Linked DNA regions of Homo sapiens. The protein of the gene in region 2 interacts with the protein of the main gene of each other region in a pairwise test. Each region holds a gene or a part of one and is shown on either strand. Other genes may lie near its edges.

The links. Proteins that work in one complex are often made in the same cells at the same time.
Region 1: the proteins of ADRA2C (region 2) and MEIS2 interact in binary tests that used the Homo sapiens proteins (3 or more experiments, as listed by UniProt).
Region 3: the proteins of ADRA2C (region 2) and CNPY2 interact in binary tests that used the Homo sapiens proteins (3 or more experiments, as listed by UniProt).

The regions. Positions count from the first base shown.
Region 1 is NC_000015.10:37,090,518-37,097,557, forward strand, and holds part of MEIS2 (homeobox protein Meis2), read right to left. Parts: intron 5,914-7,040; coding exon 5,772-5,913; intron 5,098-5,771; coding exon 5,047-5,097; intron 4,061-5,046; coding exon 4,010-4,060; intron 3,214-4,009; coding exon 3,064-3,213; intron 1-3,063. UniProt on the Homo sapiens protein: Involved in transcriptional regulation. Binds to HOX or PBX proteins to form dimers, or to a DNA-bound dimer of PBX and HOX proteins and thought to have a role in stabilization of the homeoprotein-DNA complex.
Region 2 is NC_000004.12:3,761,642-3,769,064, forward strand, and holds ADRA2C (alpha-2C adrenergic receptor), read left to right. Parts: upstream 1-4,743; 5' UTR 4,744-4,965; coding exon 4,966-6,354; 3' UTR 6,355-6,885; downstream 6,886-7,423.
Region 3 is NC_000012.12:56,312,957-56,320,089, forward strand, and holds the start of CNPY2 (protein canopy homolog 2 isoform 1 precursor), read right to left. Parts: upstream 3,033-7,133; 5' UTR 2,865-3,032; intron 2,287-2,864; 5' UTR 2,262-2,286; coding exon 2,174-2,261; intron 2,011-2,173; coding exon 1,895-2,010; coding exon of another isoform or gene 1,844-1,894; exon of another isoform or gene 1,539-1,843; intron 1-1,538. Other genes in the region: PAN2-PAN3 deadenylation complex catalytic subunit PAN2, read right to left, coding at 4,653-4,687, 5,281-5,478, 6,132-6,225, 6,352-6,531, 6,665-6,808, 6,908-7,065. UniProt on the Homo sapiens protein: Positive regulator of neurite outgrowth by stabilizing myosin regulatory light chain (MRLC). It prevents MIR-mediated MRLC ubiquitination and its subsequent proteasomal degradation.

The DNA of each region.
Region 1 (7,040 bases), on a different chromosome or scaffold from region 2:
AGATATTTATATTTATTACTTTTATTTATTTACATTTTCAAATTCTTTTAAAGAATACTGAAACTATATTGGTACCTAATATTTTGCTTCTGATGCATTTCTCTCTGCTTTTCTCTCTCTCCTTGCATGTTCCTTCCTTAAACATGCACACACACGAGTATGCACACACACACACAATGAAGCTGGATACCACTTAATAAGAGTAGAGGTGTATGTGTTTTGGGGGTGTCAAACAGCTGTCACAAACTGTCACCTCCACAAGAGAAACCTTGGCATACAACAAATTAAACTACACTTCTTTTTTAGCTGTCATTATTCATAGCCAATAAGTTGAAATGCTCTCAGCATTTCATGTGCAAATAAAACCAAGAGGAAGCTCAGATCAGAATAGTGGGCCAACAGATAAAACAAGAAAACAACGCGCTGTCTGGGCCTTTCTGAAGTGGCTCATCATCACCCCTGCACCAGTGTTCACCAAATGAGATCCAGCCTGGGGCAATGTATTAAATATGCATATCAAAGCAAATGAAAAATAAACCTGAAGATTCAAATTGGGCACATTTACATGCTGAAAATGTCCCACTCACACCACTTTTCAGGTAGTGGTTCTTTGTTATTTTTACTTTGTGTTTGGCTAGGGGGTTGAAGGAAGGCAACTTTGTAGAAGAGGCTGAAAAGCATAAGAGGATTTGCTTTGAAGGGGGAAGCCTGGACATGAATACAATCAATACACCTATGGTACAAAAGTCTCAAAAATGGTGAAAACTCTCCAAGGTTTTCTCTCATGTCCCTGCATAAAATACAAGTCTGTGGCAAATCTCTCCGTTTTCTACTTGGTGTGCTGGTGGAACAAATTATTGCTTCCTTTCAAAACAAATAGCAGGGGGCTAAAGTAAAAATGTTATAGTTCAGATCTCTAGGAAATAAAAGGCTTTAAATTATGACACCCAATGAAGTGGCAAGCCCTCATGGGTTCAAAATAAATCAGTTGTCATATTTACTTGACTGGGGGCCTGAAAGGAGAGCAACAAATGTTACAGTTGACTCTTTTATCCAAAGATGATGATTGATAAATTATTAAAGCACTATCCTCTTAGGTACAACTTCCTTCTTGAGTGGATATTTAAATATTACAATAGTCTCATAAATTGATATTGTCTATCAGCCAATACTTTAAACAGCCTATTTTATCTTATCTTTTCTATGTAAACATCAACATGGTCTAGCTGTATACATCCACTGGAAAAAGAGTTGCCAAGAAACTGTTTTAGAAAACTAAGTAGTAGGTACTCCTAGAAATATCATGAGAAAAGCTTTTGGCTCCGAGAACTGTGAACCTCTCATTTTACAAACCATGTAAATAGATCCCTCCCCAGTCTCCCAATAATGTGAATAAATATAAATATAGAAACAGAAAACAATGAAAATAAACACACAAAAAACAACAAATGTAAATATTTCTTAGGTAGTGTCATGCCTCATGGACCACAACACACTGTGGAGCCACAGATCAGCAAATAAACTTTCCATAACCACTGCTGCATCCTTTTGATTTCATTACATTCACTCAATATACAAAGGAGATCACCAAAGATTCCCTCACCATGATGGAAAAAGGTAAGGGTAAAGAGATAAGAATAGGAGCCTTCAACACCGCAGTATTTATTCTGTCACAGAACTGGATATCCCAGACTGCGGTTTTCTTTTCTAGACTTTTTCTAACTTTTGTTCTTAGGCTGGCTTCCCATACAAGTGCAAAGGTTAATTATGAAAATCTATGACTGCATATTTTCAAAACTTTTGTCTGGAGCAGGGGAGAGAAGAACCTCATAGAAGGTTTATACTAAGGCATCCCAATTCATTTCTCATACCAGTCAGGAATTGGGATGGGAGGTAGGGACAAACTGCCTTCAAGCCTTAATGCCTGTTTAACTCACACGGAGTGTCAAATTAATATTTCGGCCACAAAGTTATTAAACTACAGCTTATATTATTTAGGCTGTGAGTTCAACTGAATGTAATCTATAGACACCCTGTCCCCCATTTCCAGGCTTGAGTTCCTATAAATAAAACTGCTGTTCACACCCACTCTTTAACCTCGCCACTCTTGCCTTTCCTACCAGCTGCAATCTTTCTTCTCTTTGCTTCTTTTTCAAATTTTCAGTCTCACTACATATGCTTTTTTTTTTTTTTTTTTTTTTTTTTTTTTTTTTTTTTTTTTTTTTTTTTTAGCATCAGACTCACTAGATTGGTTCCAAAATAGGATTAGAAACAGAGAGAATAGAAAGAAATCTCCTTTCCTGGCCTGACATACACAGTCATTTCTTACTATACTCTCCATCCTCATTCACCAACTGTTAAAGTGTTAAAATTCAACCACTAACCTATGGTTACTCAATCATAATTCCCTTCAGCTTTCTGTAATACATTGTTAATAATTGGTTCATCAAGGTTACTGTCTTTTATTATGAAGATGCTTCAGGCATTTGGCAATAAGTCCCTATTCTGACAATAAGTTTCTATAGCAAAAGCCCTGAGAATTGTAATGTGTTTGTTCACCCCTTTTATTTCGAATGCAGTGCAAGATTGCCAATAATTCTCAGAATTGTCATCTCTGTGACATACTAGGAAATCAGCACTCACTCAATTCTCTTTCATTCAGTCCTCTCTCTCCAGACCAGTCCAGCTAACTGTCTTGCTTCTTTCTATCCCTGCTGCACTGATTACACAAAATTAAGAAAGCAGAAAACACAGTGGTGACTATATCAAACAGAATTTGCGAACACCCAAGTCACCAAATCCAGAAAACTTTACACATTAAGAGCACAAATCACTCTATCAACTCTGGTTTTTTGGCTCTCAACATAAATAGGAGGGGGTCCAAGAAAGGAGAAATGAAAATGAAGGGTATGGCAGAGAAAGCAAGAAAGAGAAGAAAAGACCCCAAAAGAGACGGAGTCATTTAAAAAGAAAACTAAATCAGTGGAGCTAGATGTTAAAACAAGGTTAAAATAATGCTTTGCCCAGTGGCCTTAAAAGATTGCTAAAGGCTAGCAGACTTACATGGTCAGCGAGATTTGTGGAGGAGCCTGAAAGTTCTTCATGATCTGACTTGGAGCTGCCGTCTCTTTCATCAATGACGAGGTCGATGGGCATTTTCCCCTTCAAACAGCTAATGTATCGGTGGCAGAAGTTATCGCACAGTTCGTGGACCTAGAACGAAGGTCATGGTGGAGGGTTTAGCTCATGTTGTTGTTGTTGTTGTTTTGTTTCATTTTTAGAAAGGAAAAATACCAGGTTGCAAGGTTACATTTGCAAAGAGCAACAGTGTGATGTCTTCCAAACTAACTCTAATTAAAGGGTGTAATAGTTGAAGGCAAGGAAACAATAGAGTAATTGTTGCAGCAGATATTATTCTCCAGAGACTTCTCTGAGCAACAAGTTACAATAGAGAGAGAAAGAAACAGGACTGGAAATAACTGGGTTCAGAGTGGGAGTCCAGGGAATTAAATCTGATTTGATAATAACATCAAAACATTACAACATTGGAGCTGGGGAGAGCATTAACGTTTGTGATTTTATAAGCTAGGGGTTTCGTATGTTTCCAGGGGAAAGTAATTGAGCTGCAGAGCAATGTAAAGACACCCAGCAAGGATGATTCACTCTGCCTGCACCTAATGCAAACCCAGGGCCGAGGGTGAGCTGAGCTAATAAAGATGCAAGCAGGCTGAGTGTCCAGTAACATAAATGGTTTGCTGCATTTCAAAATAATCCTGAATGCCTGAGGGGAATATTGGGGAGGAGGAGGCTACTTTAAAGGCAAGGCTGTCCTGATTCACCCACCCTCTGAGCCCCTGTGTTGAGAAGCGAGTTGAAGGATGGACATGGTTACATGCTCAAAATCTCCAGGTGCTCAATCCCTCACACTAGAGGTTTGTTAAAAACATCCCAACTCAACTAGGAGAGGGAAATGGTTTAATCAACACGGGGAGCGTTATTTCCTGCTTACCTTTTCTAACTCCAAAAGATGAAACCTTAGTACTTGTATTGCTTGTATCATCTGAAAGAAAAGTTCAGGGAATGGAGTTAGAGCTCTGTGACTCTGAGGTCCTGTCTTGGGGTTGGGAGTGGGGTGAGGATGGTGGTGAGAAAGTTGGGCTGGGGAGAAGAAACGGGCAGGTGGCCAGGAAAAACTTAAACATCAAGAAATAGTCAGAAAAATCAAGTGATTACTGATCATCTCTGCCTCATTGGCCACGGGGTAGGAATCTGACTCAACCTGAGCATAAGCATTAATATCTTTCCCCCTGATGTTCACTGTGCTATTTGTAAGACTGCTTTCCTCGGGCCAGGCCTTTTTTCTCCTCTTAGTCCTCTTTAAACATCCCCTCCCTCGACCTCAGGACAACTTTTTTTTTTTTCCTTAAAAAAAAAAAAAAAAAAAAAAGGTCCCTTCTCAGGATAGAAAAAGCTTTTTAGAACAGCATACCCAGCGAAATCCTTCCTCACTAAAGAAGGAAATACTCAAGATGAATGCTGAGGCAGGGCCTTTGAAAGCGGATTTAAGTACTTTTAATATTGAAATCGTGCAAATTAGCAAAAGAATCGCACCTAAAAGTGGCCTGCGCTGGCCTGCCCCTCACCGCCCCCCAGCCCCCACCCCCAGCCCGCCCTCAGCCGTGCCAGTGGTTACATCCTTCGGGTTAGCCGCCCGGGGCTCGGCCGCCTGCCCCGGCAAACAGAGGAAATAACTCACTTCTCGCAGTTTACTCCTGGGGCCGAGACCTGGGAAACATCCCCTGCTCGCGCTCTCGGCGCTCGGTCTCCCGTTTCGGCCTCCCTGGGCTTCGCTCCCCACCGCGTTCATCCTGCTCCTCGCTCGCCAGCTCCCGTGCGGGGGCTCTAAGCTGCTCCCTTCCTCCCTCTCTCCCTAGAGCTCCAAAAGAGGGTTCTGTTCTAACTCCCCAGAGCTCCAGCAGAAAGTGGGTGCTTCTGGGCATGGGAGAGGGCAAAGGCTGGGGAAAAACAAGGAACAGAGAGCCTTACCAAATTGTCCAGCTCTGGATTTGAGGAAAAAAGTGGCTTTTCGGCGCGAACCTGTAAGAAACAGAGAGTCAACTTGAACGATCACCCCATTTAAAATAAGAAAGCTGAAATGTGAGAATGGGTACGGTGGAGGGCAATGGCGGAGAAGAGGAAAGGGGCTTTGGCAAAATACAAGAAAGAAACTGGTGCCTTAAATTAGTGGAGTCCCTGAAGAAGAATCAGGGCATTCTGGTCCTGGCCCCATTAAGGGGGACCTGGTACGACTAAGCTGTAGCCAGGAACTCAGGGTCGTTCTCAGGGCCTCGAGTTCCATATCCAGCAGTCCAAGAGGCTGTGGCTCTCCACTGCTGCCTGGGACCGCTCGGAGAGGCGCCCAGCTTCCTTGCCTCCCGGGCACTCCCGGGTCCCTCACAGCCCCTCTCCCCAATTCTTGTTCAAGTAGCTGGAGGCGGGGGAAAAAGGCCAAGCCCCAGATTAGGAGCAGGTCAACTTTAATTCGAGGGTCGACCCCTGTATTCCTGCTGGGGGGGAAAACAAACACCCATATTTATCTCCACTTCCAATTCGCCCCCAGGCTCAGGGATGGGGAGGAGGCGTAGAGAGCGGACTGGGCCAGAGGAACAGATAGGGTGTCCCTGGCCTTTCCTCCTTTCAAGTAAAGCTCCGAGGAAAGGGGAGGGGTAGTGAGGGACTGCCCGAAGTTGAGTGGATCAAGAAGGCTGGACCTGCTTGGCGAAGACCGCGATGTCCTCGTTGAAGGAGTCGGAGGAGCAGACGTCTCCGCCAGCCACTCCAGGTTCCCGGGGAGTGCAGGTCGCCAGCTCGCACTTCTCAAAGACCAGAGCTAACAGAGGAAACAACGGGTGCCTAACGGGCAGCGCCACGCAGAGACACACACACAGAGACGGGGTGCAGAGGGGAAGGAGCAAGAACTGTAATCAACAAGTTTGGAGGGTGTGGAGTCCTTCTTTAATACAACAGGCACGCACCACACTTTACAACCCTTCCTCCATCAGGCGAGCCTAAGCCAGAAACAGAAAGGGAAAAGGGCCTGGCCCTCTCCCGCAGCTCAGAGGTCCCTCAGATCTGGCCAGAGAAGACCCCGGCCACTGCAGCCCGACAAATAAAAACAGCCTCAGTTGGAACGTAATGAAACATCCGAGACGCTCAGGCAGTCTGGAGCCCGAGTCGATTCTGATCCACTCCCCACACTACGGAGGCCGCGGAACCAACCCCTGAGACCCAGCCCTGACCTCCCAAGAAGGGAACACTGTGTGAAATTGAAAAAAAAATAGTTTTAACTCTGCATTTTAATGGGCATTTCAGACGAGGCCAAAGGCTTCACCTACATACACACCGGAGTGACACTTCATAAATGCAAGAGAATGCTCTTTTAATCTCTCCACCTCCTTGCCTTATAAACTTGTTTGCTCCTGTTCTACTAAAGCCACAGTGTGGGGGCCAAAATAATAGGAAGGTTACACACTGGAGAGCTTCCTTCCAAAGACCACATTTCTCCCAGCGTTGCAGCAGACAAAAATAAATAAATCGTGTTTTAAAACTTTAAGTGTGCGTGCGCGTATGCCCTTTGTGTTCCTCCGGGCGGCTTAGCCACACTTCGGGATGCTTGCGGCCTCTGGCTTGGGGCTCAGTTGCTGTTTACCCACTGTCCCCTCCCCTCGGCATCCCGTCGCTTTGCCCACCTACCCTCAGCCGGAAGAGCTCGTGTGGTACACGTTAGGATCGTGCATCTCACCCCTCGCCAAGTGCTCTCAGAATATAAAATAATTTCCAGCCATCTTCCTTACTCCCCCTAAGAGCGGCTCCAAGCAAGCAAGAGTCCCTTCCACCTCGCTGCACTTCGAGGTCTGCCCCCTTTATTTACAGAGAATTAAGAAGTGGGTGATTAGGACTTCCTGGCCGACAGAAGCAGCCCTGATCCCAGCTCAAGCTGCTGTTAGTGACTCCCAGACCCTCAGTAGGAAACAGAAGAA
Region 2 (7,423 bases):
AAGCATCAGTGCGGCTAAGGAGGCTAGAGCCAGGCCCACAAGCCCATCTGCCCTTCACGGCACCCATCCTGCCACCAGGCCTTCATTCAGCTCTTTCTGTGAGCTGAGAGCCCAGCCCTGGACCAGGCAGTGGGGATGGGACACAGCTGAGATGTATGGTTACTGATGATGGCCATGCCCCATGGGGCATGCAGGAGGCCGGCAAAAGTGGCCCAGATCCAGCCCGGGAGGTCACGGGAGGCTTCCTGAAGGAGGAACATCATGGGACAAGTCTTGAAGGAAGCGAGCCCCAGGAAAGATGAGGCAGAGGGCATCCAGGCCTGCGGACAGCACATGGTCAGGCCCAGGGTCCACAAGAGTTAATGAGAAATGTCCTCACAGCTCACAGCGTGGAGAGGAGGGCTGACCGCAGGAGCCAGGTGGAGCTGTGCAGACCAGGCAGGCGAGGCAGAACCCAGCCGCAGCCCCGGAAGAGCTGGCTGCAGCAGCAACCCAGAAATACATCTTCTCCTCAGCCTAGGAGGGTGGGCAAGGCCACAGGTGCCGCATATGTGTGTACACATCCATATATGCGAAGCCATGTGTGCACATGCATGACTGGTGTCATGCATAGGGACAGATGTGTGCAGCACAGGCATACACACGTGTGTGCAATGTGCATGGATTCGTGTTATCTGCACAGGGAAGGCTGTGCGTGCCCGCAGTATGCACAGGTGTGTGCACAGCATGGGTGCATCATTTCTACATATGCCAGTGTGATACATATGCATGTGTAGACATACGTGTGCAAAAAGCACGTGTGTATGATAGTGCATATGTATATATGCACCTGCATGTGAAGAGTACACGGGCATGTGTATGCACACGCAGGCATGTGTGCATGTGTGGGAACATGTATGTGTGCATACATGTGTGTATATTCTGTAGGCATGGATGCACTGTAAATCCACATGGTATATGTAGACAGTGTGTGTGTGGATGTGTGCATGCATGTGTGTGTGAAGGCATGCAAGTGTGCATGAATAGGTTGCATGCTTGCATGCATGTGTGGATATGTGTATGTATGGGTGTTCATGCTTGCATGAACACACGTGTATTCATGATATGTATATTCATGTGTGTGCATGGATCTATGTGTGCACAAGGATGTGTGTGGATACATATATGTGTGTGGACACTGTACATCTGCGTATGTGCATGCATGCCTGCATGTGCAGGGAGGGGGCTCAAGGAGCCAAACTCCCCTCCACCCGAGCTGAGGCTGCTCACGAAGCCTAGAGCGCGGCATCCCAGGCAGGCACCCAGCTCTCTCCGGCACAGCAGCCAGGGCCCAATGTCCCATGGCTGTATGGCCCTGCTGGACCAACCCTGTCCTCCTAGGCCCCACGCATCATGGGTGAGATACAGGCAGGTTCGCCTCTGCAGCTCCAGGACGTGCCACTTCTAGGTTCTCAGTTCTAGGAAACACCTGTAGGTTTCCCCTCTGAAATATGCCCACTTCTGCCATGTACTCCCCTGCACACGTACACACAGACAGCCCCCACAACCCCCGCCAGTGCAGCCTGACTCCCCCAGCACCCTCCTTCCTCGCCCCTCCTGGTCGTGCCAGCTCGCGTCGTGCCTCGTCAGGACAGGAAGTCTTGCTGGGTACGTGCTGTTCTGCTTGTTACGGACAATCCGGAGCAGTTCCTCAAGCCTAATTTCAAGGTCTGGGGGAAGAGTCCTCTCCAGCTTCCTTGCAAACAGCTGCGGTCCCGGGCCCTCCCACCACAGGCAGGCCTGCGTGCAATGCAACCCCTATGCATGGCCCAGGGCTTCGCTCCTCCTAATGACTCCAGGCCCCAGCTTTTTGCCCTTGGCTCCATCCAGGCCCTGGAGTGGACCCTTCTGACCCCTCCCTGGTCATGCCAGGAGGTGTTGCCAGCAGCATGTCAGCCTGTTGGCTGCCATCCCCAAGGGCCTGGGCCGCTCACTGGCCAGGCACTCCAGATGCCCTCAGCCTGGCCTGTGAGTGGCCCCTGCCTTCAGCCCTCCTGGGCAGTGGGAGGCTCATCTGGCTCAGGGCCCCAGGTGCTCCGTGTCCTTTTCCCTCCAAATTCCCGTGCCTGGGCTGCCATCTCTTGGGAACATAGGAGCCAGGATCCTAGATAGATCCCCATGCCCCTGCGCATCCCCCAAAGCACTTCTCAAAAAGAGAGCCCTTCAGGATGGGGGTGGGAGGCACGCTGATGCCGAGGGAGAGAGACCTTCTCCAAAGCCTGCATCTGGCCCCTGCCACTGCTCTTTCCTAGTCCTCCTGTCTCCCCACGCCCCCAGTACAAAGCCCACTCCCACTGGAAGAAGGACAGCCTACAGAGGCCTCCCCCTTCCTCATAACACCTCCTCACTCTCTAAGCACAGTTTGGTCACCTCCTCCAGGAAGGCTTCCTTGACAACCCCGCTCCCAGGCTGGGGGAGGAGCCCCAGGGCACTGATGGTTGTCAGCGCATTCACCTCAGTGGGTGGCCCCATCCACCCACAGATGGTGAGCACCTCAACTGAGGCCAGGCCCCCCTCACTCTCTGCCATCGCAGAGGGCTCAATAGAGACAAGGGCTCCAGCGGGCCGACCATGAAGGAAGCAGGTGTGTGTGGGCTTCCCTGAAAAATGCACCTCCAGGTGCCCTGGACAGGTGGCACCTTTTAGGCAACCAGAACCAGGAGGGCCTTTAGTAAGGATGGTGACCCTCCACCATCCCCAGGTCACACACCTCCCACAGGACAGCCATGGCCTGTTGCCTCCCCGAAGGGCATATGTGCCCTAGACTAGCACAGGACTGGCACAGAAGGCTTTGGCTCCAACGTGCGCCCCTGCTTGGCAGGCCCATCATCTGAAATATTTGCTTTCTGCCGGGCCCTGGCTCGGCCTCCACACCCCCAATGCAGGCCCTGCTGGTGACAAACATGGTGAAGAACGAAGCCGTAGCTCCTGGCAGTGTCTCTGCGGAGACAGACATGCTCCCCAGTAGGGCTGAGCAGCAGAGAACACGACAGGCTCTGAGGCTAAAGCTGGCGCCCTTCAGGAGCTCAGAGAGAAGCTGCCCCAGGCCACGGGCATGGATAGGCATCCCGGGGGTAGGGCAGTCACTCCAGCCGCTCTTCATGATGACCTCCCGGGCACTCAGAAGCGCCCCTTCCCCGCCGGTTCTAGCCACAGGATGGACAGACCTTCCCTCCCTCTCTCCTGCGGGCCCATGCAGGGAGAGGCCAGCCAGCTGGGGTTCGTTTCTGGACGTTTGGGAGAAGGGTCGTCCCTTCGGTCCTAGCAGAGAAACGTCAGGCCTGAGAACTCCAGCTCTCCTCCTGGATCACCTCGTCCCTGGAAGTCCCTCTCCCACAGACCCCAGGCTGCCTGGAGGCAGAAGCCAGCACCCAACATGGGCCACAGAGTGGCAGTGCACGTGGCAGTGCACATCTGCAGAATGGAGGTGCGCGGACGGGGGCGAGGGTGCACGGGGGCTACCTCAACGGCCGCTCTCCCCTGAGCCCACCCTTGCAAAAAGCTCCATCATCCAGGCAGCTCCGTTCTGGGTGTTTGTCAGAGGTGGTGACTTTGAACACCTCTCCATCCTTTAAAAGCAGGGCCTGAGAGCCTAAGGATTAAACTTCAATCACTGCTAACATGGGTGCAGAGCTTGGGAGCTTGCCCAGGGCTTCCACAGACACCGCCGTTAGTTATGATTCATGCTCCAGCAGCGCTGGGAAGTGGGCCGAGGGAACTGAGGCCGGGGTGGGTGCGGAGGTGGCTCTGACGGGGAGCGCCGATCCAGGATCTGGTCCGGACCCTGAGCTCGGCAGGACCTGTGCGCACGCAGGTAGCGTCGCGTCCTCCCCCAGGCTGCGAGAGGTTGCTCTGCCATCAGGCCATGGACCCCGAGCCGCCCGTGCTGCGCGCGCGCGTGTGCGCGCCCCCGCCTGCGCCCATGCCTGCGCCGGGGGAGGCGAAGGAGGCTCCAGTCTTAGAAAGAGCAGCTTCTGGAACTCACCACCCAGGCCGGCCGCCGCTCGGCCCCGTCCCGCAGGCTGCAGGCGGCCCTGGAGGGGGCGCCCTCGCCGAGCGCGCGCCCCGCGCCGCCGCCCCGGACTCCTCCCCGGCGCCGCGCGGGCAGGTTCGACCAGGCGGCCGCGGGCTCCGGTTCCCGGCCAGCTCCCCAGGGCCCGCGGCCCGCCCCGCCCCGCGCGCCCGCCCCGCTGCGCAACTCGACCCAAGTTGGAAGCCGATCGCAGGCGGCCGCACTCGCGCCCAGCGCAGGGCGGCGGCGGCGGCGGCGGCGCAGCTCCGGCGAGCGAGGCGGCGGCCGCACGGCCAAGCGTGGACCGCGGGGGGCGCCCGCGCCCGGGAGCAGCCGGAGGACTCGCGGCGGCGCCGGCGCCCCGCCCGGGAAAGTAAAGTTGGAGACGGAGGGAGCGCGCGGGCGCGGGGGCCCGGAGGAGCGGCGGCCGGCGCCCCGGCGCGCCGAGCCCTAGCCGGCCGGATGGGAGGCGGAGCGCCCGGGCCGCCGCCGCCTGTCGCCTGCGCCCCGGCTGGGCTCCGGGACCGCGGGGCCGCTCAGGCACGCCCGCTCGGGCGCCGCGTCGCCGTGGGCTCGACGCCGGGGCGCTCCCCGTGAGCCGGGCCGAGGGCGGGGCCGCGCGAGGACCCCGGGACCTGCCCCCCTCCCCCCGCAGCCGCGTCGCCGCTCGCTCCGGGCGCCTCCTGCTCTGCACTTACACGCTCGGCAGCTGCGGGGAGCCCGGCAGCCACGCTCTCCGGCGCGCCGCCCGCGGAGCCACCACGGCCGAGGGCCGGCTGCTGGGCGCCGCGGTCCCCGGCGGGCGCGCCCGAGCAGCAGGCGGCGATGCGGGCGCCGACCCCGGCTGGGGGGCGCCCGAGCTGCCGCGGCTGCGCCCCGGCTCCAGGAGGGACGGCGTAGCTCGCGGGAGGACCATGGCGTCCCCGGCGCTGGCGGCGGCGCTGGCGGTGGCGGCAGCGGCGGGCCCCAATGCGAGCGGCGCGGGCGAGAGGGGCAGCGGCGGGGTTGCCAATGCCTCGGGGGCTTCCTGGGGGCCGCCGCGCGGCCAGTACTCGGCGGGCGCGGTGGCAGGGCTGGCTGCCGTGGTGGGCTTCCTCATCGTCTTCACCGTGGTGGGCAACGTGCTGGTGGTGATCGCCGTGCTGACCAGCCGGGCGCTGCGCGCGCCACAGAACCTCTTCCTGGTGTCGCTGGCCTCGGCCGACATCCTGGTGGCCACGCTGGTCATGCCCTTCTCGTTGGCCAACGAGCTCATGGCCTACTGGTACTTCGGGCAGGTGTGGTGCGGCGTGTACCTGGCGCTCGATGTGCTGTTTTGCACCTCGTCGATCGTGCATCTGTGTGCCATCAGCCTGGACCGCTACTGGTCGGTGACGCAGGCCGTCGAGTACAACCTGAAGCGCACACCACGCCGCGTCAAGGCCACCATCGTGGCCGTGTGGCTCATCTCGGCCGTCATCTCCTTCCCGCCGCTGGTCTCGCTCTACCGCCAGCCCGACGGCGCCGCCTACCCGCAGTGCGGCCTCAACGACGAGACCTGGTACATCCTGTCCTCCTGCATCGGCTCCTTCTTCGCGCCCTGCCTCATCATGGGCCTGGTCTACGCGCGCATCTACCGAGTGGCCAAGCTGCGCACGCGCACGCTCAGCGAGAAGCGCGCCCCCGTGGGCCCCGACGGTGCGTCCCCGACTACCGAAAACGGGCTGGGCGCGGCGGCAGGCGCAGGCGAGAACGGGCACTGCGCGCCCCCGCCCGCCGACGTGGAGCCGGACGAGAGCAGCGCAGCGGCCGAGAGGCGGCGGCGCCGGGGCGCGTTGCGGCGGGGCGGGCGGCGGCGAGCGGGCGCGGAGGGGGGCGCGGGCGGTGCGGACGGGCAGGGGGCGGGGCCGGGGGCGGCTGAGTCGGGGGCGCTGACCGCCTCCAGGTCCCCGGGGCCCGGTGGCCGCCTGTCGCGCGCCAGCTCGCGCTCCGTCGAGTTCTTCCTGTCGCGCCGGCGCCGGGCGCGCAGCAGCGTGTGCCGCCGCAAGGTGGCCCAGGCGCGCGAGAAGCGCTTCACCTTTGTGCTGGCTGTGGTCATGGGCGTGTTCGTGCTCTGCTGGTTCCCCTTCTTCTTCAGCTACAGCCTGTACGGCATCTGCCGCGAGGCCTGCCAGGTGCCCGGCCCGCTCTTCAAGTTCTTCTTCTGGATCGGCTACTGCAACAGCTCGCTCAACCCGGTCATCTACACGGTCTTCAACCAGGATTTCCGGCGATCCTTTAAGCACATCCTCTTCCGACGGAGGAGAAGGGGCTTCAGGCAGTGACTCGCACCCGTCTGGGAATCCTGGACAGCTCCGCGCTCGGGGCTGGGCAGAAGGGGCGGCCCGGACGGGGGAGCTTTCCCAGAGACCCGGGGATGGATTGGCCTCCAGGGCGCAGGGGAGGGTGCGGCAGGGCAGGAGCTTGGCAGAGAGATAGCCGGGCTCCAGGGAGTGGGGAGGAGAGAGGGGGAGACCCCTTTGCCTTCCCCCCTCAGCAAGGGGCTGCTTCTGGGGCTCCCTGCCTGGATCCAGCTCTGGGAGCCCTGCCGAGGTGTGGCTGTGAGGTCAGGGTTTTAGAGAGCAGTGGCAGAGGTAGCCCCCTAAATGGGCAAGCAAGGAGCCCCCCAAAGACACTACCACTCCCCATCCCCGTCTGACCAAGGGCTGACTTCTCCAGGACCTAGTCGGGGGGTGGCTGCCAGGGGGCAAGGAGAAAGCACCGACAATCTTTGATTACTGAAAGTATTTAAATGTTTGCCAAAAACAACAGCCAAAACAACCAAACTATTTTCTAAATAAACCTTTGTAATCTAATGTTGGGTGCCGCAGTCAGTCCTTGAGCTTGGGGGCTGGGGGTATCTTCCAGACCCTCACCCTGCCTGACACCCTCCCCCATCTCCCCCACCCCACAATGCTGGACGGAGGGCACCCTGGGCCTCCGGGTTACAACTTCCTTCTTGCATGAGAAGGAGGGGTCTTGCTTTTTCTCAAGCTAACCCTTTATGTACATGGAAAATATGTACTCAAAATTCCTGTGCTGAGAGTAGCGAAGAGGTGAAAGGAGCCTAGAACCCCCAAGTTGACCCCAAGTTTAGATTCTGGGGGACTGTCTTCCCTGCATTCCCATCCCTGCCCCCTGCCCTTCCCCACTCTGATATTCAGGGCCTCCGGTGGAAAGAGGTGGGGCTCTTCCAGTCCAAGACTGAGAGTAGCTTTGAGCTAGTCCTCCTGGCTCTGAACATTTTGTGGGCGTGGCTCTTGGGTGGAGAGAGGGTGGGCGTGAGGCCGGCAAGCCCCCACACCATCACTCTTAGGCCAGAGGCCTGGCCAGAGCCAGGTTGAACAACAGGCA
Region 3 (7,133 bases), on a different chromosome or scaffold from region 2:
ACTTCTAATTTCTATAGATGAAGATAATTTTTTTTTAAATTATAGTTTAAGTTCTGAGATACATGTGCAGAACGTGCAGGTTTGTTGCATAGGTATACATGTGCCATGGTGGTTTGCTACACCCATCAACCTGTCATCTACATTAGGTATTTCTCCTAATGCTATCCCTCCCCTAGCCCCCAACACCCCAACAGGACCTGATGTGTGACGTTCCCCTCCCTGTGTCCATGTGTTCATTAATATTTTATTTTTGGCCGGGCGTGGTGGCTCACGCCTGTAATCCCAGCACTTTGAGAGGCCGAGGAGGGTGGCTCACTTGAGGTCAGGAGTTCGAGACCATCCTGACCAACATGGAGAAACCCTGTCTCTACTAAAAATACAAAATTATCCAGGTGTGGTGGTGCATGCCTGTAATCCCAGCTACTCGGGAGGCTGAGGCAGGAGAATCGCTTGAACCCGGGAGGCAGAGGTTGCGGTGAGCCGAGATCGTGTCATTGCACTCCAGCCTGGGCAACAAGCCCTAAACTCCATCTCAAAAAAATAATAATAATTTTGTTTAAATTGAGACTAATATCCTCAGTAAGCACAGTATTAAAGATGTAGTGTAGGCTCTGTGAACAACAGCTATTAAAGTACCATAATCTTTTTTCTTTTCTTTTTTTTTTTTTGAGAGGAGTCTCGCTGTGTCGCCCAGGCTAGAGTGCAGTGGCACCATCTCAGCTCACTGCAAGCTCTGCCTCCCGAGTTCACGCCATTCTTTTCGTCTCAGCCTCCTGAGTAGCTGGGACTACAGGCACCCACCACCACGCCCGGCTAATTTTTTGTATTTTTAGTAGAGACGGGGTTTCACCATGTTAGCCAGGATGGTTTCGATCTCCTGACCTTGTGATCTGCCCACCTCAGCCTCCCAAAGTGCTGGCATTACGGGCGTGAGCCACCGCGCCCGGCCTTTTTTTTTTTTCAAGACAGAGTTTTGTTCTTGTCAACCAGACTGGAGTGCAGTGGTGCGATCTTGGCTCACTGCAACCTCTGCCTCCTGGGTTCAAGTGATTCTCCTGCCTCAGCCTCCTGAGTAGCTGGGACTATAGGCATGAGCCACCACGCCTGGCTACTTTTTTGTATTTTTAGTAGAGACGGAGTTTCACCATGTTGGCCAGGCTGGTCTCGAACTTCTAACCTCAGGTGATCCGCCTGCCTTGGCCTCCCAAAGTGCTGGGTTTTGGTTTTTTTTTGAGACAGGGTCTTGCTGTGTTTCCCAGGCTGGAGTGCAGTGGCACAATCACGGCTTACTGCAGCCTCGACCTCCTGGGCTCAAGTGATCCTCCCACCTCAGCCTTCCAAGCAGCTGTCACTACAGGCACATGCCACCATGCACTGCTAACTTTTGCATTTTTTTGTAGAGTTGGTGTTTTGCCATGATGCCCAGGCTAGCACTGTAATCTTAACACTGCCTTATATATTGCTTATTAGATACACCTTTGTGTACATGTGTGTTGTTTTCGATTAAAATTTCCTAATTATGAGGATAAGACCTTTTATTCTTATTTCTGTTTTTTCATTTTTTATTTTTAGCTCCGACTCAGATTTTGAACGGATGTTTGCATGTATACCACAGTGCTACATTAAAAACCAGTCATGTGGATGTGGAGAAGGGTGCTGATCAGGACTCCCTGTTTGCTAACAAATTCTACAGCAGAAACAAAGTATTAAGGTTTGCAGCCAGGAAGCAAGTGCATGGGGAATAAGCCTGCAGCTTCTTCCAAATGAGACAGAGCCAAATCTTTTTTCTGAGTCTGTTTTCTTCATTTCTATTAAACCAAGGTCCTTTTTAAGCAGTCGAATTTCATCCAAAGCCAGAGTGAGCTACTTTGTTTGGGGGAACAGTAACAGTTACCTCCACCACTGACTGGCTGCCATCTGGATTGATCCGGAAAGATCCCATCTGAATGGTCTTCTTGGGGTCCACCTGGGCAATTTCCCATTCTAGTTCATCCACCAGAGCCCTGCATGCTGGTGGAAGAGGAGAGAATGAGAGCAGGGGACAGGGTAGGGGGTAGGGTGTGAGGAGAATGGGATCAACCCAGGATTTCCATTCATCCTTCTCCCAGGCCTTGGATCTCATGCCCTCCCAAGGCTCTGCTTCCTCCACTTCTTTTTCCCGTTGTGCCTTTACCTCCACAGTGGAGATCCTGGCTCCTCCGAGCCCAGGCGGTTCCCAGCAGGGCCCCCAGAAGCAGGGCCAGCCAACCCCAGCCTTTCATCTTTAGCGTAATGGGGTCGCTCCACCTGGGTTTGAGTGGGAATAAAACATAAGTGTGAGGAGCCGACTCCATTTTTCCCTGACCCCCCCAATCCTCACCCCAAGGCTTTCAAAGGCCTCATTGTGACTCTGGCTCTACTTTCCAGGAAATGGCCGGGACACAAAGGGGCTTCTCTGTTCCAGCGCTTGAGGGCTCTGATTCCCCCAGGGTGGTGGGTGGGAGCGCGAGCTCAGGACTTGCGGCTCAGCCCCAGACTCTACGTGGATAGGTGAGGCCCTAAGTGTTGGTACTTTAGCACTGCATGCCTAGGGTTCACGGGGCTTTGTGGCAGCTACAGGAGGTAAGTTGGCGATTACGTGAGGACTACAGGCACTAGGGAACTGCCGGCAGGGAGCCCTCAGTCAGGCCAGGAGGCCAGCGAGGAGAGCAATAACTAGGGCCCATTTGGATCCTGCACCGAAGATTCCTGCGTCCCCACCTCCAGCCCGTAAGTGATTACCCGTACGGACACCAGCCCCCTTTCTAAGGACTCCGCCATTGCTTTCGCTTCAGTCCATCCCCAACCCTCAGCGCCCAGCGCCTCGCCGCCCGCATCCGTCCCACCTCTGCTCCCAGGGCCGCCGCCGTGGCCCAAGCGCTGGAAGACCGCTGGACTCTCACTTTGGCCCCAGTGGCTCCCGAAACTACACCTGGCTGCAGGGAGCAGGGCTGTCCGGGATTCTCCAGAGCGCTTCGCCGCCTGCCACACACGGGGTGTCCCGGCGACCGCCTGACCCAGCTCCCCTGACGCTAACTGGTACCTAAGCGGGACTCCAGCGTGCTGCGGTGCGAGCCCCAATCAGACACCGACCCCAAACCCGCCCCTCCAAACTCTCGCGCGAACAGGCAGCTTAGGAGAGGCTCCCGAACAGCAAGGACCCCGGTCAATCGCCGAAGGACCCAGACTTGCGTGGCGAACAGATCCACGTGACCACCAGGGGTCAGCCGTAGAATAGGAGTGGCCTTAAGCGACGACAGAGTCCGGGCGTGCTGTATGGGAGCGGCTAGTCGTGCGCGTGAGCCAGCCCAGGTGGGCTAGGACCTTCAAAACGGTGCGCTGCCGGCCAGCGAGCAGTCCAGGTTTCAATACACAGGAAACTACATCTCCCAGGAAGCACCGCAGCACCGGACCCATCTTTGTGAGCAACTACAAGTCTCAAGCTATCCTGGGACCTGTAGTTTGTCGGCTTACACAATTAACGGAAACCATACTGTACATCTTCAGTCTGACTTAGGGTACTGGGCAGCTATAGCAAAGACCCAGCATTGCCCAGAAAAGGCATAAATTATACCTTTTTCCCCTTTTTTTGAGACGGAGTCTCGCCCTATCGCCCAGGCTGGCATACAGTGGCGTGATCTCGGCTCACTGCAACCTCCGCCTCCCGGGTTGAAGCAATTTTCTGCCTCAGCTAGGGTTACAGTCGCCATCCACCACTCCCAGCTAATTTTTGTATTTTTAGTAGAGACGGGGTTTCACCATCTTGGTCAGGCTGGTCTTTAACTCCTGACCTCGTGTTCCACCCACCTCTGCCTCCCAAAGTGCTAGGATTACAGAAGTGAGCCACCGCGCCCGGCCTAATTATACCCTTTCATATCCATAACTTTGGATTCCGGACCTTTACCTTCAAAGGAAGGAGAGGAAGACTGAAGCCAGAGAACCCACACTAGCAGTTCTCTAATGAGATAAATAACAAACGATATTTTATTTTTATTTTATAAAACATGCAGTTTACAACAAATTTTTAAAAAATGGAACAAAACTTGGGACAGGCAAGTGGGATGGAAGACAGATGCTTCTCAGCCATCAGCAGGAATAAATGAAGCCGGCAGCCAAGCTTTGTCCAGGATCCAAAGGCCCTTTTGGCAATGGTATTGGCAACACTGGTTTGCTTGGGCCACCAACACTCTACTTGCTGGCCCCTCCAGGTATCCCTGAAGCAGTTGGTGACTTGTGCTAAGTCTTGAACTACTGTGGTATCCTCTGTCACTGTCCAGGACTTCAATCCCTAGCCAGCTAGGAACTTACAGTTATGGTTCCAGGAGCTTCTCTGCCTGGATATTAGTCACCCAGGATATTAAGAATACCAATTACTTTCCATCTGGGTCAATTCTAGACTCCATGTCTGTACCACTGTTTTGCAAAGAATGAAGAAGGAATGAATCTGGCTCCTAGAACCTTTGCAACAATTCTGCTGTGTTCCAGTTCAATTAATAGCACCATCTGTGACCCTAGACCCTGAGCACGTCCAGTACTGGAAGTGGACAAGGTATAGCCAACTTAGGAAGCCATCTCCCAGTTCTGGGGCTATAGAACAGTAAAGGGAGAGGGCCGTGGTTCTTTGGGAAGGGTAGTCAGAGCGCCAGCACTGAGGAGAAGACAGCTGCATCTGTCAGAGACAAAACCAAAAGCATGATTCAAGCTGAGTGGAGAAAAAGCATCTTCTCATACTTCCTATGAAGGAAAAATGCAAGAGAAAAAAGGGCATGGACCTTCCCTGAACATTTTAGACTTGGGCAAGAGGAAGTTATAGTTAATGGAGAGTTTCGATAAAATGTATTTTACTGAATGTTAGGAGGATGAAGTGCTTTGTAAACTGTTAAGTGCTATTCTCCATATGTGCAATCAAAATCCACCCAATTGGGGGCGCTCAGGCTCATGCCTGTAATCCCAGCACTTTGTGAGCCCAAGGTGGGTGGATCGCTTGAGCCCAGGAGTTTAAGACCAGCCTGGGCAACATGGCAAAATCCTGTTTCTACAAAAAGTACAAAAATTAGCTGGGTGTGGTGGTGTGTGCCTGTTGTCCCAGGTACTTGGGAGGCTGAGGTGGGAGAATCACTTGAGCCCAGGAAGTCGAGGCTGCAGTGAGCTGTAATCACGCTACTGCACTTCAGCCTGGGTGACAGAGTGAGACCCTGTCACAAACAAACAAAATACAAAATCCACCCAGTCCAGTTTCCCTTGTCCCATCCCAGGTCTTACTCTTGGGACTTGTTTGGCCCTCAGGCTCAGGCACCTTCCAGTCCATCTTTCTGCCCTTCTCATAAAGACCCTTGAGCACCTTGTGGAAAGACTCAGGCTCAGTGCCATTTTTGCTTAGCTCCAGATACTTTCGGTACAGCTGAAGGGCTGTGCGGGCATCCTCAATACTGTCATGGGTTTCCCCTTGAATCTTCAGGTCTGGGGTAAGTAAAGGTGGAATAGTTTGGGACCCAGCAAAGGGAGGTAGGAACATGTCTCCCCACTCCTACCTGACTCCAGAAAACTAAAAAGCCTGACTGCCCTTAAGGAAAATTGTCAGACATCTTCCTCAGTGCACAGAAGGGATATTGAAGTTAATTAAATCCATTAGTAACTGTCACCACTAACTGAGGGTCTCCCCTACTCCCATTTTGTCCTCTAACACTTTTCCTACTTTTTCTTTTCCCCCCATGCTTTTATTTTTTATATTTAAATTTTATTTTAGATTTGGGGTACATGTGCATGTTTGTTACATGGGTGTATCGTGTACTGGTGGGGACTGGGCTTCTGGTATCCCTAATATGCAAATAGTGAACTATGCACCCAATACGTAATTTTCAACCCTCACCCCTCACCCACCACCCCAACTTTTAGAGTCCCTAATGTCATTCTTATGTCCATATGTACTCATTGTTTAGTTCCAACTTATAAGTGAGAATATGTGGTATTTGATTTTCTGTTTCTGAGTTAGTTCACTTAGTATGATGGCCCACAGCTCCATCCATGTTGCCGCAAAGAACATGATTTCTTTTTTTTTAAATGGCTGCTTCTGCTATTAATGTAGCAGGGGCCTACAAGGCAGAGCAACTCACCCAGAAAGTACCAAGCAAGGAATCGCAGGGAAATCATTCGTTTTCGGGGCATATGGAACAGGTAGACAGTGTCAAGGACTTGGTCCTTGGGCACCTGGCAAGGATAAAAGAGGGGGAGACTTAAGGTAGGGGACCTATAATTCCCCATTCTCTAAAGGCACAATGTATACCCTGAGGGGCCCACTCTCACAAGAAGACTCTTAAAAGAGCCCTGCCAAACCATCAGGTTGATGACCCGGAAGTCCTTCTGCAGGCCATGACCCACAAACTTGACTCCAATGTCAATGAGAAAACGAAGCTTTAAGTAGGTAGACTTGAGAGTTGTTAGGTGCTTGGAGGAAATTTTGGCATCGAGGTCACCAGGCTTTATACCCGAGTATTGAGTCAAGTAATCCACCACCTAGGAATAGAGAAAAGGACAAGCCTTTTTCAGGAAGTGAGATGGAGTCTTCCCCTATCACTCTTCCCTGGGTTCTTGAGCACTGTAAGTAAGCACCAGGGTGTGCCTCACTTGCATCTCCATATCCTAATACCTGCTCCTGGGTAGAGATGTAGTCATCAATGAAGGGGATACCCTCATTGGGTCCCTGGCCCCGAACACAGGTAATCCTGGCTACTGACATCTGGCTTGGTTTAATGGTAGACTTGGTACCATCACTGCGTAACTCTGCTTCCTCCTACATGAGAAGAGTTAATAAGGAAATCAGAGAAATGCTTACAACTCCTAATATCCTCAGCGTTCTCTTCCAATGCCCCATCCCTTTGGTCTTGGTTACCTCATTAAGGGTGACAAACTCAGCATCCAGACCCACCAGGTCCCCAATCTGTGGCATCTCATTCAGCATCAGTGGAATAAAGGTAGTATGTGTTTTCCGCTGCTTCCGTGCCAGCGAGGCTTCAGCCAGCAAGACACTTGCCTCAATAGGGTTCTTGACTAGAAGGGAGAATGCAGAGGACACAGGGCTTGGATAGGGAAGTGACTAGGGGAGAGAAGCCCAGTGT